Regions from separate parts of the Homo sapiens genome. Here regions 2, 3 and 4 are each reported to be linked to region 1. The links are microRNA targets in miRTarBase. Many come from high-throughput screens and were not tested one by one. Region 1 holds a microRNA gene; each other region holds the end of a gene's coding sequence. Distances are from middle to middle.

What was found. The annotated mature microRNA hsa-miR-497-5p reads CAGCAGCACACUGUGGUUUGU and lies in region 1 at 2,085-2,105, opposite strand. An mRNA with a match to its seed (bases 2 to 7 or 8) in the 3' UTR can be bound and repressed. Matches are read on the target gene's strand: a 7mer-m8 pairs with bases 2 to 8, a 7mer-A1 pairs with bases 2 to 7 and ends in A, and an 8mer does both.
Region 2: the mRNA of FBXL20 is a reported target of hsa-miR-497-5p. The part of its 3' UTR that is shown has no 7-base or 8-base seed match.
Region 3: miRTarBase lists GABPA as a target of hsa-miR-497-5p. Seed matches in the 3' UTR shown: 7mer-m8 at 3,088-3,094.
Region 4: the mRNA of RAPH1 is a reported target of hsa-miR-497-5p. Seed matches in the 3' UTR shown: 7mer-m8 at 865-871 and 8mer at 212-219.

Annotation. Positions count from the first base shown.
Region 1 is chr17:7,015,895-7,020,183 of GRCh38, forward strand. It overlaps MIR497 (microRNA 497), which reads right to left and starts at 2,128; the gene lies at 2,017-2,128. BACC1 (BPTF associated chromatin complex component 1) reads left to right here. Exons shown (of 6, transcript NM_174893.4): 4 at 601-791; 5 at 1,016-1,120; 6 at 1,367-1,626. The coding sequence ends at 1,371. It overlaps RNASEK-C17orf49 (RNASEK-C17orf49 readthrough), which reads left to right. Exons shown (of 8, transcript NR_037717.1): 6 at 601-791; 7 at 1,016-1,120; 8 at 1,367-1,630. MIR497HG (mir-497-195 cluster host gene) reads right to left here and starts at 3,760. Exons shown (of 3, transcript NR_038310.1): 1 at 3,484-3,760; 2 at 1,175-1,494; 3 at 1-120. It also overlaps MIR195. RefSeq lists enhancers at 114-1,313, 2,665-2,834.
Region 2 is chr17:39,258,253-39,262,252 of GRCh38, reverse strand. FBXL20 (F-box and leucine rich repeat protein 20) reads left to right here. Exons shown (of 15, transcript NM_032875.3): 15 at 686-4,000. The coding sequence ends at 793. Among named protein-coding and RNA genes, the nearest start is that of STAC2, 34 kb to the right of the region's middle.
Region 3 is chr21:25,768,726-25,772,725 of GRCh38, reverse strand. GABPA (GA binding protein transcription factor subunit alpha) reads right to left here. Exons shown (of 10, transcript NM_002040.4): 10 at 266-3,722. The coding sequence ends at 3,494. Among named protein-coding and RNA genes, the nearest start is that of GABPA, 36 kb to the right of the region's middle.
Region 4 is chr2:203,435,768-203,439,767 of GRCh38, forward strand. It overlaps RAPH1 (Ras association (RalGDS/AF-6) and pleckstrin homology domains 1), which reads right to left. Exons shown (of 14, transcript NM_213589.3): 14 at 1-4,000. The coding sequence ends at 3,670. Among named protein-coding and RNA genes, the nearest start is that of RAPH1, 98 kb to the right of the region's middle.

The DNA of each region.
Region 1 (4,289 bases):
AGAAAAGGGCGGGTGGGCAGCCTTCTTCCTCCTTACCCAAGGTTCCATCGTCCTCAGAACTCCTTTCCAGCTCAGCTGCTTCCCTACTTTGTCACTAGTTTTTTAGAATCCCCTTGAGGACTGAAAGAATAGAATTGTCACAGTTGGTCAGAAGTTCCTAAAATGCTGTGGTAATCCTTCCAAGAATGTGAATTTAGGTTGCCTGAGATGCTGTTATTGTATTTGATGATGGAAGTCCCCTGGTTATTTATATAAATGTTTGAGGACCCCACTGCAGTGTTTCCAGGGATATGGTGACCCTGAACTAGTTGATCAGTAAATCTCAATCCACCTGTAAATCACCAAGCTCTACCTGATGTCTCTCCCAGAAGAGAATTAGGAGATGGGCCTTTCCCACTACTCAGTTCAGGGACTCCACTCTCCACACTCCATCCATCCTGAGTGAGTGTAAAACTTCGAGAAAGTGAGAACCCTACCAATGGGTTGGGGCCCCGACCTGGATTCTTATGAAGGGACTCCCAGAACCCCTTCCCCTCCCGTCCCCTCTTCTGTTAGTCTCTCTGATGACTCCTTTCCTAACCTCTTCTCTCTTTTCTTCAGGGCCCAGATAAAGGCCACTGTGAAACGCAAGGTATATGAAGATTCTGGCATCCCCCTTCCAGCTGAGTCACCCAAGAAAGGGCCCAAGAAGGTGGCATCTGGTGTCTTGTCACCTCCTCCAGCTGCCCCTCCTCCCAGCAGCTCCAGTGTCCCTGAGGCCGGGGGTCCCCCCATAAAGAAACAGAAGGCTGGTGAGGGCTGTGGAGTTGCTGCCTAGGGGTTAAAGGTCCCATCTGAGGTTTAGTGAGAGAATTGGGCCTGGGTCAAAGAAGGGTCAGTCTCTCTTCCTGTCCCTGTGGAGGTTCCCAGAGAGGGGCAGAGGGGAGGGGAGAGGAGGCACAAAGCTTTGGGAAGCTTGGGGCTGGGGGAGAGGCTGTCAGGGGAACCTAGAACCTAGCTTATGCCCCCTTCCCAGATGTGACACTCAGTGCTCTGAACGACTCCGATGCCAACAGTGACGTGGTGGATATTGAAGGGCTAGGAGAAACTCCTCCAGCTAAGAAACTCAACTTCGACCAGGGTAGGAGTCCTCCTCCTCCCACACAGCTGACGGGGTTGGGGAGAAAGGGCTCACCTGGATGGCAGGGCACGGTCTCCGCAGGGGCCCCTCCCTTGTATAGGGGTTTCAGAAGAGAAGGTGCTCTCATACACAGCGCAGGGCATTGGATCAGTACGTAGCAGGGTGTTTCAGGGAGGTGGGAGTGGCCTTGGAAGCACACTGGGGGCTCGCTCCATCTCGGCCCATTTTACTTCCTGTTCCAGACAGCCTGACCCTGGATTCTGGCCTTCTCATGACCTCTGCTGATCCTCCTCTCCTCTCCTGCTGAGCCTTCCACCTCTGACCTCTCACTGTTCATGCCGGACCTGTGGATCTCCTGGGACTCCGAGCAAGGCCTGCACGAGAGAGGGCTGAAAGGCTGCTGGGGCTGCCACCTCGCTATTCCCGCATAAGCATCTGCCCCCAACCCCTTTGACCTTCATCTGATGGACATTTTTATACAGAAAACAATAAAGATTTCCCTCTCAGCTTCGTGCTGTCTGCTTAACATTATTAGCAGGAGAGGCCTGTTCCCTCTTCTCTCCTCGGCCCATGGGGGCTCAGCCCCTCCTCGGTAGTTTTCACCACCCTGCCTGGAGCAGCACAGCCAATATTGGCAGACTCGCTTCCCTGTGCCAATATTTCTGTGCTGCTAGAGCCAGGGAAGCTGGGTGTGGGCAACAAAGACTCCACTTTGTTCTCTTGAGGCAGAACTTACTCCCAGGGTCTCTGGCCATCAGTATTCTTGAAACTGCCCTGGAGATTTTAGAGGGGTGCTTACATACCCCACCCTCTCCTTGCCCACCTGGCAAGAAGTTTGTCACAAGGCCCCAGATGTTTTTTGTGTCACTTCTCCAGGATGGCCTCCCAGGGCCAAGCCTCGGCGGTGCCTCCCCCACCCTCGCTCTAACACCACAGTGTGGTTTGGACGTGGCCACAGTGCCGTACAAACCACAGTGTGCTGCTGGGGCGGGAGCAGGACCGGGGTGGGTTGAAAGGAAGAGAGCACATAGCAGTGCTGGGAAGACCCCAGCACCACCTCCAGGAGCGGGGGGATAGAGAAGCCTTAAAAGGCAAACATGGCCCCCAAAAACGTTTGGGAGGAACCAGGGACGGGCTGAGCAGGCAACTGGAAGGCGACGGACCATGGGGATGAGCTCACAGTGTAGTAAGATTGGACCATCTTCCCTCTGTAGGAACTCAGCTCAGGGGATCCCTAGGGTGGGGTCAGAGGCAGAAGAAATAGGGAATGACTGGAGGGGCCAACACACTGCCTCCTGTCTCAGCAAGGGCAGGGACCCAAGGCTTCCTGTGTCCGTCCTTCCTCTCCCTGGGTCAGAACCCAAGAGAAAAGCAAGGAGAGACAGAGGGCCAAGGCCAGCAGGGTTGGGAGTTGGCAGTCCAGAGGTGGTGGGGCCGGAACATGGTTGGGAGAGGGGGGCCGGAAGTCGCCCTGGGCCCTGGGCCTGCCACAAGATGGAGGCCAAAGGCAGGAAATGGAGACCAGGGGGAAGGGGAGCAGCAGAGCCCAGGAAGAGGGCCATCTGGACCTGGGGGGCCAGGTATTCAACCCCCAGTGCTGTTCCCACTCCCCAGGGCCCCTGAGGACCCGAGCCGGCCCCCACAGCAACCTCCATCAGCCCATCCACCAGGCCAGGGCAGGCGGGCCCACCCCAGAGAGCCACGTTTAAGCTGAGACAAACATGCCTCTCCCCACCCCCAACTCCAGGCCTTCCCTCAGCCCTTTTCTCCTGTCCAGGACTTGATTTTTTAAAAACACCCCTCAGAAAGCAAAATCCAAGGGCCAAAACTCCTTTTGCAAATCAAAATATGACCCCCTAAAATCCAGAAGTTATCTTCCTATATCCCATCGCATCTTTTACCACCCCCTCTTCCGACACACCCCCCAAAACTCTTAGCAATCTGAAAGATCCAAGGTGGTGTATGTAAGCAGTCTTTTTAGGCCCCCGAAGATGCCAGACCCCTCCCGGACACCCCTATCTGCCCTCCATCAAATCTTGCCAAGGCCTCCTGCTCCTCCACCACCCTCCATAGCCCCCAAACTAACAGTTGCCCCCAGCTCCTACCTCGGCAGAGCCTTTGTGGGGGGTGAAAGAGAAATTAAACACTATCCTAACGGCTGGGGATGTTGGGGGGCTCTCTGGTCTCAGCCTTTGGTTTCCGTCTGGGGGGCTGCAGTTTAGGGGTATAAGAGAAAGCCTCTCCAATCATCCCCCCAATTCCAAGACTGACAAAGCCAACCCCACCCCAGCACGCACCTCCAAACCTCCCCCCCAACCGCCACGTCTCTCCTGAAAACAGAGGACACTTCCCTCCCCACTTACCTCAGCTACTCTCCCCTGAGATCCTGGTCCCCTATTTTGAAAAGAGCAAAATTTAGGGTGCATCCCTCACATTTGGGGTGCAGGAGAAAGGAGCCGCCCCAGTCGCATCGCTGGCCTCCTTCCTCTCGGCTGGCTCAGGGACTGGGGAGTGCCCTGGGGAGGGGGCACCCCCACAAGAGATCTCAGGAGGGGTTCCTCCACTCCCAGTCAGAATTGGGGACACCCCCCCAAAACCCGTCCCAGCCCATCCGTCTCCAACTCGGCGGGAGAGGCAGCTGCAATGCCCCAGTCAGATTCACCCAACACTACATTCCTCACCCCATCTAGAGGGGTCCCGGGGTCCCCAAAAAATCCCAAAAAAATCTAGGATGTTGGGAGGACGGTCCTGGACTAGCTCCCCAAATTTGGGGTCCTCAGATACCCCCGTTTTTTCAGGAAAATTCCGTCTTTTGCCTGCCTCCCGCCAGCCCTGCTCTGTCCCGATGCCAATTTTGGAAGTCACTCCCTCCTTCCTCCTCCCCGTCTCTCCAGGCCCCCCCCACCGCTCGGGGGCTAGGGTCCAGGACACCTGGCTTCCAGACCGGGGGGAATCACTCCTCAAAGGGCTAGGGGCCAGGAGGTCAAGCTCATTGCCCCTGTCTTAAGGAAGCAGGAAAGCCCGTTCCTCCCTTCCCCTCCCCCCTGGCTGGTCACCGTGGTGGTTTAGGAAAGCCTGGAGGATTGGAATCTGCCATTGCTGTTGCACAGGCAGTTTTTTTTCTTGGGTTGGGGGGGTGGGCGGTGGGAGGGAGAGAGGGGAGGAGGGC
Region 2 (4,000 bases), 32 Mb from region 1:
GAGCAAATAAAAGAGTACCAAACTTCATCTTGAGTTCGAGTTGGCCTCAGTTCCTCTTCCCCTCTTCAGACATAGAGGACTGTGAGCATAATTGCACTGGGGGTGGCCTTGCAGCCATTTTTTTTCTTCACCAAAGAGAATGAGAGCCACAGGTCAACCAGAGCCTCTTACGTGCCTACTTACATTAGGGTTCCTAGACTGCCTGGCTGCCAGGAGTCTCTTCCATCTCCCATCCTTGGGCGGACCACTTGAGGTCAGGAGTTCGAGACCAGTCTGGCCAACATGGTGAAACCCCGTCTCTACTAACAATACAAAAATTAGCCTTTGTATTTTTAGTAGAAACGGGGTTTCACCATGTTAGCCTGGATGGTCTCAATCTCCTGACCTCGTGATCCGCCCGTCTCGGCTTCCCAAAGTGCAGGGATTACAGGCGTGAGCCACCGCGCCCGGCCCTCAGTTTTATTATTACACAAACAGGTACCAAAGTCATATGAGTTGTTCTGGTCATTGAGAACAACCTAGGATGGAACAAAGTAGAACCCAGGCCCTCTAACATCCTGACCAGTGCTCAGCCTTTGCCCTGCTTTTATGTTCATTGAGCCCCTCGGTAGTTTTTCTAAGAACCAACATTGCTCTTTCTGTTTAAGCCCTCTCTTAAACGTTTAATGTTTCTGTCTTGTTTCAGACCCATTTACCCAATATTAAAGTCCACGCCTACTTCGCACCTGTCACTCCACCCCCATCAGTAGGGGGCAGCAGACAGCGCTTCTGCAGATGCTGCATCATCCTATGACAATGGAGGTGGTCAACCTTGGCGAACTGAGTATTTAATGACACTTCTAGAGCTACCGTGGAGTCTCTCCAGTGGAAGCAACCCCAGTGTTCTGAGCAAGGGTTACAAAGTGAGGGAGGGCAGTGTCCAGATCCCCAGAGCCACACATACATACACATACACACCCTTACCCCCATCCACTCTAGCTTTGTGACCATGGGACTGAAGTTTGTGATGGCTTTTTTATCAAGTAGATTGGTAAAATTTAACCATTCCTGTTGAGGTGCCCATAAGAAAATCATAGGCCAAGATAGGGAGGGGCATTCCAGCAAACCCCGTGTTAATGCTACTGTGGTTTTTAAATTTTTGTCTAGGGGTTTCTTTGGGGATTTTAGAACAGCATCTGCTGTCCTCCGGGGTCAAGAAAAGCATGGAAAGACAATATATGATGTACCCAGGGACCAGAAAGAAAATTTCTTTGCATCTTAGAAATGGTAGACATTCATTGTGACTAAAGAGCTTCTATGCTTCCTTGTTTCCATGCCAACATGCTGAGCATGCTCACAAAGAAGGCTCGTCCATTCCTCCTGTGTTTTAGTATTTGGCCCAGAGGTTTCCTAAATGGTTGCCTTGAAATCACTGTGGTCCAAATGTAATTCTTACACACTCAAATTATCACTGTCTGTAGCACACTTGTGCACCTGTCTTACATTCTCTGTTGCTCCCCCCCACACTCTTGCTCAGTCTGTCACCTGTTCAGTCTGCTTACTCACTCAATTGTTACCCTTTTGCTGTTGTCGTGTTTACAGTTTGCATTTTGAATGATTAGTTGGGATTACCAAACATTTTTTAAAAAGATATTATCAATAAATATTTTTTTAATTCTAAATTTTACCATTAGGGGACCCTGCCTGAATCTTTGCCAACCTGCAAGGAAACTCTAATGAAAGCAAGAAAAGTTATGAGAAGAAACTGTTTTGATGAAAACAGATGCTACCTTTTGGTTTCTATTTTATCTTCTGATATGTGATAATTCGCATGGTATCCCCAATATTCCCCCTACATATTCTTCCTTCTGTCAGACTCCACCAACTGTATCATAAGGAAAGAGAGAGATGTATTATTAGGAAAGAGTGAAAATGATAAATCACAAAACAGAGCCTGAAAGTCCCCAACACCCAAGTTCAGACATTAATGATTAATGTTATTATATATTTACTGAAATCTAGGAGTGATCAGTGGCATCTCTGACCTATGAGGTTGTTTTAACAGGAATGCCACTAGAGGAGCTGTGTATTCTAGCCAGTCTGTTTCTCTCTTTTCCCCCATTTCAGCCTTTCAGGGATACAAGAATGGCTCTATAACAGCTGGTCAATTGTATGTCAGTGTTAATGGATTCATATCTAGTGTTGGCACCCCAAAGGGCCAGAACCTTCCCATAACCTGTCAGTCATCTCTCTTTTCTGCCCCAGTCTTTTTTTTTTTTTTTTTTTTTTTTTAAGACGGGTTCTCACTCTTGCCCAGACTGGAGTGCAGTGGTGCGATCTCGGCTCACCGCAACCTCCACTTCCCAGGCTCAAGCGATTCTCTTGCCTCAGCCTACCGAGTAGCTGGGATTACAGGCATGCACCACTACTGCCTGGCTAATTTTTGTATTTTTAGTAGAGATGGGGTTTCACATGTTGGCCAGCCTGGTCTTGAACTCCTGACCTCAAATGATCCACCTGCCTCAGCCTCCCAAAGTGCTGGGACTACAGGCATGAGCCACCATGCCCGGCCCTGTTCAGACTTCTGAATGAAGTATGAATGTAGCCAGGTGAAGCATTGAGGCAGCTGAAAGAGAACACTGAGAGGAAGTAAGGGGTTTAGTGTCTCTGCTTAGCCTGGGCACTAGAACTGAGGGAGGAATTTAGTGTCCAGGACTCAAGAGTCCAAGAAGAAGCACCCTCTGTCTTCCCAAAAAATCAGAGGATAAAGGAAGTAAAATGAGTTTTTAAAGCATAAGAAGAAAATTTCTAAACCCCAAGATTAGAAACCCAGTGTGATTTTTAGTAGGGTGATTTTGGCGGGGGGTGTCCTTTGAGACATTAATGTGCAATCCATCATAATATTAATCTTCTATATGATCCAGACTATTAAAAGGCTTGTTTTATTTATTTATTTTATTTTATTTTATTTTTTTAGAGATGGGGTCTCGCTATCTTGCCCAGCCTGGACTCAAACTCCTGGGCTCAAGCCTTCCTCCCACCTCAGCCTCCCAAGTAGCTGGGACTACAGGTGTGTGCCACTGTACCCAGCTTAAGAGGTTTGTTTTAATGCTGCAGTTGCTGATTATACCAGCATATATAAGAATAAAGTCTGATTTATTTATCCATTGATTTAGAAGGCAATTGGATGAAAGGGTCTTAGAAGTCTATACTATCCATTAATATTTATCATATTAAATTTATTTTAAATCCTGTTTTATTGTGCCGCTTTAAAAACGCAGATTACTTGTTTATTCATTCCCCTTTCCCCTTATTCTCTTTCAGATTACCTTATAAGGAATATAGTTTTTAACATGAAACTCAGTTTCTTGTCTGTACCCCTACACATAAAAATACATACGTGCATACACACATACTTCCAGATGTGGTTAATAATATTCAGATCCCTAGGTTACTCAAACAAAACTAAAGGAGAGAACTATTTAGGGGCCATCTGCTTTAAAGTTTAAGGTGTTTTGTTGTTGTTTTAGTGCCTGTACAAATTGACCATAAAACCCAGATTGATTAGTGAGTGTGGATTTGAGTTGCCTAAGTTGAGGCTATTAAGGTACTTCTTTACTTAAAAGATAAGTTTAAAAGACTCTATTCATCAGTTCATGATGATCTTGGAAATGCTGTTTCTCTGCTCAAAGGATATACCCACAGGCAGGTCCATGGGGACTTGCTCTGGTGATCTCTGCTATTAAGGCAAATTCCAGCCTGTTTGTGCCAAGAACAGAGTCAAGTGAGAGAGAATGAAGACTCAGAGATGTGCAGCACTGGCTTGTATGTTGTCAGGCAGAAGCCTTGTTCCTTTCTCAAGAAAACTTCAGGCCTATCAAGCTTGGAAGGAAATACATTTTTTTATGCTGATTTGCAGCCTACACCAGCTGATGAATATGCTAGGACTTTGAGAGAACACAAAGCATGGTAAGTTTTGGTCAGGTGGAAAGGAGCCTGACATCTGAACATAATGCTTCCT
Region 3 (4,000 bases), not on the chromosome of region 1:
CTTCTGACAGCTTCATCTGTTACTATTCTAAAACAACTTGGCTTTGTAGATGGAATTTCATTAATTTCCTCAAAGAGATGAACCTACTAATTTTAGTTCAGTGAAATATGTTCTTCCCAAATTGACAGCTTTTAAGTTTAAAAATGCATCGGAATCCTATGTACAACGTATCATAAGTGGACTGTCAGATTACTATCCAACAAAATATCCTGGGGATTTAAGATTTTGTTTTCAGGAAAAAAAACTTTTAAGCAACACAGAAACATACTGTATAATAGTTTTATTTTTCTCATTTTACTATTTTTACATTTTATGCACAAATATTTATCTGCGTAAAAATAGAAAATAACTGTTTTATGTAAAATTACAAAAAAAATTAAAACCACAAAGAAATACATAATTGTTATTATGACAGTATAAGTGTCGTTGTCGTTATTTAAAGAGTAAAAATGTATGCAAAAGTCCTCCTCCCATTTACAAAAGATTGAGAATTTTGTTTTTCCTGGCAGCAAGTGAAATATTGAAGTATCAATATTTTTACACCCTTTAGATCTGAAGACATTAAGTTAGTCACAGATTTGTTTTGCAATTATGAATTTTAAAACATTTTTGTGCTATTTCAAGGATACACTAGTTCTTTCTTAAAGGCAGTAGCATAAAATGAATATGGAAAACAGCAGACCTCACAAAAATATTTGGTGGTACAATTCTTTTTGTATCATACTTGAATATCACCATTAATCAGGGGAGAAAACAACTAAACAATTTTTCCTAATAACATAGACTGATACAAAAATAACTGTGATCAGTCAATTTATCTGAAGATCAACCACACATAGCAATTCTGCCTCATTTGTTTTTCTGATGCCAACACAAATATTTAGACTTTAGGCTAGCAAGATATGTATGAAAGTTGGCTCAATAAAAACTTCACATGGAAAACAAATTTTAAAACAAAAATGAACATTTCTTTTACTTAAATTCTTGTACTTCTAAGGTACAAATGATGACCAATAATTTTATCTTTCTTCCTTTGAATATACTGTAAATTCTATGAAAAATTCATTTATAAAAACAAAGCAAAGAATAGCATAAATTTTATTTTCTTTCACAATGTTATATTTTAATAGAAGAAAAAAACTACCTTTCTGATAACTGTAACCTAAGTAAAACAAATATTTTACATATAATTTGAGGCAAAGTAATGAGTTTCTTGAATCAACTGGAGAAATTAGTCACATTACCTATGTCATGCATAAATGATGGTAAGAAGAAAAAAAAAGCATCTGATCATGTATGAGAACTGTCTCTGTTCAAATTATGAGAAATAAAATGAAAATTGCTAAAGGGAGAAAATGAATAAAATATGATTTAAAAAAAAACCATATGGGAATTGCATAGATGAGAAAAAAATTTTCATTCTAGGGATCTAAAAGTAATGTTTTTAGCTTTAAAAACATACACACACATATATAATTGAGACATGTCTATCATCTTGGCTAAAATTTTAATATATGTCTCCCCAAAAGCATTTTAAATATGAAAGCCAAGATTCTTAAGCTCTTGATGATATACCAGAAGGGTATACTTTATTATTTTTTTAAAACTACAAGCAACTTGTCAACTCTCTAGGCCGTAAGAGGATGGTGCAAAACCTTTCTTGCTGTCTATTTGTTACCTGACGTTAGAGCTTCTGTTTATTATTTCATATTGTTATTTTACTCAGATATTCTTAAAACCACAGTGCCCAAATTGTACTAATAATCTGTCCATATATTCTCTTTCAAAAAAGTAAAAATGGAAATACAAATCTTACTCTGCTCAGATATCAACTGCAGGAAGAGCTTAATAATATGAATGAATTGAGAACATGTTTTAGTAAAATTATGCATTAAGATTACCAGAGAAAGAGATCAAAGATCCCTCCCTCTCTCTCTTCTCTTCCTTGTCCTTAAGATCCCTGCCTCTTAGGATTCATTCCAAACCACTACCAGAATTGCTAACAATGCCATCTTGCCTGTATTATCATGCCTTTTTCTCCTAGTTAAGTCAAAAGCATTAACTGAGCTCTTAAGAAGCTTTTTAAGAGGACAGATTTAAAGAAAACAATGAAGGAGAAGGTGCATAAATATTTGAGAATCAACTTTCTCAAATCTGTAAGAGGATTAATAGCTATCTGCCAGTCTCATGTAATAATTCGTGCTTAATACCTTAAACAACAAAGAGAGAAAAGAAAGAAAAAGACATTTCTAGCCATTTTTGTTTAGTGTTCGCTTATGTAAGGAATGTCATATATGCAGGAATTAGTTAATTTGAATCTTAAAATGAGTTGTTTAATAATTTTTCTTCTGTATATCTTTATGCCTTCATATGTTTATAAAATGATCAACTGAATATGTATACAGCTATATGAATACACATATATAATATGGAAAAGGAAAACAAGTGGAAAAGTATTGTCTTAAAGAGAAGACTGCCTATAACAAAGGTCGTATTTTCCTTTTAAAACTATTTGCAAGTAATTTACTAATGCCTTGAAAGGTAAAGTACTACTGACTGATTTAAAGTCTTCATTTTATCAGAAACAAAGGAATATAAGCTGCTTTGCATAATAAACTGGCACTACAGGGTAATTTTTTAAAAAAGGAAGCCATAACAAACCAAAACAAACCTTTATTTTTGGGTTGAGGTATACCTTTTCAGTTTTTTAAATCTCTGACAGGAAAAACAGAGATCATTTTATAATTTTTATAACAGCTGGTTTATTAGAATTAAATGCCTCTCTCAAAATAATTTAAATTCTTGGTCTGACATGAGTAATCTATACAGAAAATCCTTAAAATTGGCTTGAGTTAATAAGCCAGATTTAAACCTGGATCTCCTCCTTCAGCACTGCTCTTTTGCCAGTCAACTTCTTACTGTCCTTTGCTTGCAAATATATAAATAACCTGATACTCTTAGTTTAGTAATTTATTAATATAAATTTATTCGGTATGAACATTTTAGCTCTGCTTGATTAGATGAAACAGGCACACATGCTTTAGCTGAGAAATTCCATTTTCTGGTTCTATGTAAAGCAACATCTAAAGCAGCAGAGAGGGGAAACAGTTATATTTTCAAAAATAGTTAAGCCAGACTGTTTCCTAGAGATACTTCATTTATTTTTCATTTTCAGATACTACTGGCTATTTTTGGTAGGGCTACACATTAATACTGACCAGTTTAGCCTTCCTGACTGTTAAACTATTCCACAATGAACCTGCCTTCACACTGCAGACATTGTGGAGATCCTTTAACATACACATATTCTAAAATATATGCTCAAAGTAAAAAGATCCAAATTCACAAGAGTATGAAATATTTATAAAAAAATCATGCATCAGACTGTACAGCCTAGAAATAAAAGAAGATTCAAATTCAGTAATAAAGGTAAGAGCTATACTTGCTCTAAACATTTTAAGAAAGACTTTGGAGTCTCAGAATGTCCTGGGGCTCAATTATCCTTTTCCGTTTGCAGAGAAGCAGTAGCCAGAGCTACTGCTGTGACTGGCTGGGCAATTCCATGGAGCTGCATCTTTGCAAGTTTCTTCTGTTCACATTCTGTGACCAAACGGTTCAACTCCGCTGCACTGTATCCAATAAGAGTCTTCAAGTCACAGACAAACTTGTACACAAATCTCTTGCCTTGAACTTTACAAATCATGTCCCCATCGTAATAATATCTTCAAAAAGAGAAAAAAAAATTAGAGACTTCAGAAAAAATGAGACTTCTTACAATAATTTACAGACTATTCCATAAGCAGAAGCCTAGTAGAGTACTGCATCCGCCACAATAGCAATTAATATTGAAGCTATGTAGAATATTTAATGCTACTATCAAATGAAACATCCCAACATTATTTACTAAAATTTCAATGCTCACTACTCCAAAACTCTATACATTAAACTTTCAAAACATATTTTCAACAATTAGAATAAAACATTGATTTAAAAATAATTA
Region 4 (4,000 bases), not on the chromosome of region 1:
TTTACCTGTTTAAAGTCACTTTGTGTTTATAACAAAATTACTTTTAGCTGAGGAACAAAGGTGACAAAGATTTCTGTTGGTGGCTGAGAGTCAAAGCAGGCCAATCCACACCATTACCTGAAATATTTTTCAGGCTAATTTATAACTTTATGGATTTCCTCGATACAAGTTTATTAGTTTATTCTCCATATACAAGTTTATTCTCCCAGAATAGCAGCAAATAAAACTTGAATTGGATGTACAGCTCCTAATAACCTTGATGTCAGAGTTGTCACTTGGTTGGAATTATTATGATCCCCCAATTTAAATTTTCTTGATAAACTCAGCGTTGTTTGTTTTCAGTGACAAGAAAACATACATGGAAAGGGGACCCAAGACAGTTCACCAAGATAGTTCACAGCCCTTTGCAGGATATGCCTTTGGTGGGTGGGAGCACCTAGATTTTAGAGGACTATAAAACGCCATGTTTACTTTGTTTGAAATTTTCTGATGAAAAGTCTTTTGTAACTTAACATTCCACATTTTCATTTAAAAAGTCCCAGAAATATAAACTATCCAATTTACAACTAAGGTGGGTATCTGTAAAAACCTTAAGAATAGTTACTCTTCCCAAGAGAATTACAGCGTCTAAGGGGGGGAAAGAAAGCATCTGAGCAGTAAAAGTCAAGCTGGTAAAATCCAATACAGAATATCTAATAAACCATAAGTTATTTTACTGAGAATAGATTCTGCTGCCCTACAGCATTGGTGCCAAAACTCTAAGCATAGAGTGATTCTACTTTGAAATTATCCATAGTAGAAATTAGGAGTGTCACTAATTAAGCAAGTCACTACCTCTAATAAGCACCTGTTTGCACTGCCCTCAGCAGCAGGATGAGTTAATCCATGCTGTTCACTTTTCAGTACAGCCAAGTCAACTGCACAGACTTGAAGCAGCCAAGCTGGGTGAGAGCTGCAGAGCAGAGGGCAGTGAAAGAAGGCACAGTACTAGTGTCGTGCGGCAGTAGATGCTTTCCATGAATACACCAGAGAAAAAGAGCTACAGAAATACAGTCTAGGAAAAGCTACATCCCAACAAAAATCCAAATTAAAGAAAACCCACTAGGGAGTAAAACAGAAGTATAAAGTATCACTTTAGTGGTTTTTTAAATTCAGTTCATACATGAGGTTAAAACATTTTTAATAGCCATTTCTGTCTGTGGAGGAATGTAAAGGGAAATGGCCTGTTGTCGGACAAGCCACTGGACTGGGGTTAAAATGAGTCTCCTCCTCTAGCCTTACTCTCTTCCTGGCATCATTAGTGTTCAAAAGGATGTCTGCTATTCCAGGAAAACAGACCAGAAGCATCTGTTCAGGATGGCTATCATCAGGATTGATACAAGCAAGAAATTCCAAGAAATCCTGCACTGAAAACATAAAGGCTGTTGTTTTAGGGCTCAAATCATGGGTGAAAAAAGGTTAGCGGGTACATTTTTTCCCCCTCAAGAAAAACTGAAGTGTTGTCTACCTTCTCATGAGAAAATCACCACCACAATAAAACTCAAAACCTCAGGGATGAATACTTTGATAACTGGATTCATATTCTTACTAACTCTAACCCACAAATATGGGTGCCCCTCAAACTATAAAACTGCAGGCAGAAGACTATGAGAAATTCATTCATGAATCACAGTAGCGCTTGGCAATCTACTCAAACATTACCCAAATTTCTGTGCATGCTTAAATTAACAATGCAGATGTGTTAAAGATCACTTCATAAATATCAAACACAAAACTTGGTGAACAATTTGAAAGACCTAAAAATTAATGGTATATATTCTTATTGCTCCATAACCACATGAACATAACCGAACAATATTCTGGAGATGTAGCAATGGAGAGGTGCTGTTCACTCTCTGTTTACGATGCGGTTTTCGTGGAGTGTGGGTTATGCAAGACCTTGAGTATACTGTACTAATTAAGCACTTTTGCTCATTCTAGAATTATTTACCATCTCTTCCCCCACTTTACTGGCATCACTTTTTCCTTGTGGGACAATGTCAACTGATTTCTGCAGTTTGCATTGGTAATCATTAACAATAGGCACAGACTTTCATTACAAGATGTGCTCCCCTTATAAGTGCTGGGATGGCCCATTTTTATTCTCTTGTTTAGGAGCTGCTCTGAGATTGTTTTATTCCTAATAGTCCAATTTATCATAAGTTGATGAGAGTACTTATTTCTCTCATGTACCAAGGAAAATTCACAGAAAAAAGCATATAGAAGTATAGTGTGTCGTTAGAGCACTGACTCCACGTTATACCAAACTGCACACGCATAAAACGTAATGTCAGTTACTGGACTTGGACTGTCCCACTCCATCAGAACACCTAGTAACCTGAACTAATCACAACCAGGCTGCAGTCAGCAAGGGTCCTGGTAGCCCCAGTAGCTATAAATGAAACTGTCTTCCCTCTCCATGTAGTCCCATACTTAATGAGCTTTTTGTATTACATATTATAACCCATATACAACCAGATTAATGACACCTGTACAGGGGCCAGTTCTGTTCTCTCATCACCCTTCCCTTCTATAGAGCAATGCTCAAAAAATGCATTTTAGAAAATGATTTTGTTTTTCATAATGCACCATATTGGGGCACAGGATGTGTATATTTCATATACCAATTGTCTACAGATATGTAATAACACCTACCTAAAGCACATATTTTAAGAAGGTAACTGGTGACCCAAAGACATACTGGGACAGAACATTACAGAGATAACTGTGTTATCCATCCTCTTAAAATCAATCAAAGTGAGGATCATGAAGCCAAGTTGATAAAGCTTCATAAAACAGTACTAAAAAGGAACTATCCAGAATTATAGCACTAATTATCCATGTATTGTAGGCAAAGAGCTTATCTGTCAGCACATCCTAAATGTGGGTGGATCACTGCAGCAGTACTGCAGCTAGAACAGCTGAGTTAATTACGCCATGTATTTACTTTCTATGCACAACCACATACAGATGATGTCTGTGAACATTTCCCCATCCTGCACTAGTTACCCGTTCTATGAAGCTGAGAGATTTTCCTGATTTAAAGTGCCCCTTCATGTATAGCAATGAAGTGTCAGTCAAGCAATTCTAACTTCAGCCAACTGGGGAAAAACAAACACAAAAGCCTTATAGATACACCAAACATTCTGGTGATTTTTCTCAACCAGAAATAGCACATTCTACATCTATTCCTTAGTTATATAATACACAACATGCACGAATAGGCTACACATGGACAGACACTTATAAATACCTTCTAAATAAGTGATTAGAAGTTTTTGGTCCAATCCACATGATATAGAAATCTTAAGAGACAACACACATCCCCTTCTATGCCTCTTCCACCCAAAATACAGAACACCCATTTTCAGATTAGGAGAGAAAAGGAATAAATAGAATAACTCTCAGCTCTCTCTCTATATACACATACACATACATATATGTATACATATATACACACACTGTACAGCTGTGTGTACATGCACGTGTACACACACACATACACATATAGCTGGACACTACCTGAATAACATCATACCAGGAGGCTCTGAACACCTGAATTCACAGATGATCAGGTGAGCTGATTGTAGCAGTGATTACAGATATCATGAAAATAAAGTCCTATGGTGGCTACCAGTCTCTGGAGAGCTTGGTGTTCTGGTCTCTTTTGGGGGGAGCAGGAGGGGGTCCTCTCCGCAACGTTGCATAGCCTGATATATGACTGCCTCCGTAACCAGCCTTCTGTTGATCAGACAGCAGTTCAGGGGGTGGTGGAGGCAATGCCATATCATCCATGGTGGCTGTTGGTTCTGCTCTGGACATGCGGGAGGAGAGTGAGCCGTGCCGAGTGATGGACTTTCGTTGCAGTGTCCTGTTGAGGTCAGCCAGGAATCCAGGCTGGACACTAAGGCTGGATTTGGGAGAGGTGGGCACTTGTGGCACAACTGTGGCCATTGTTGGC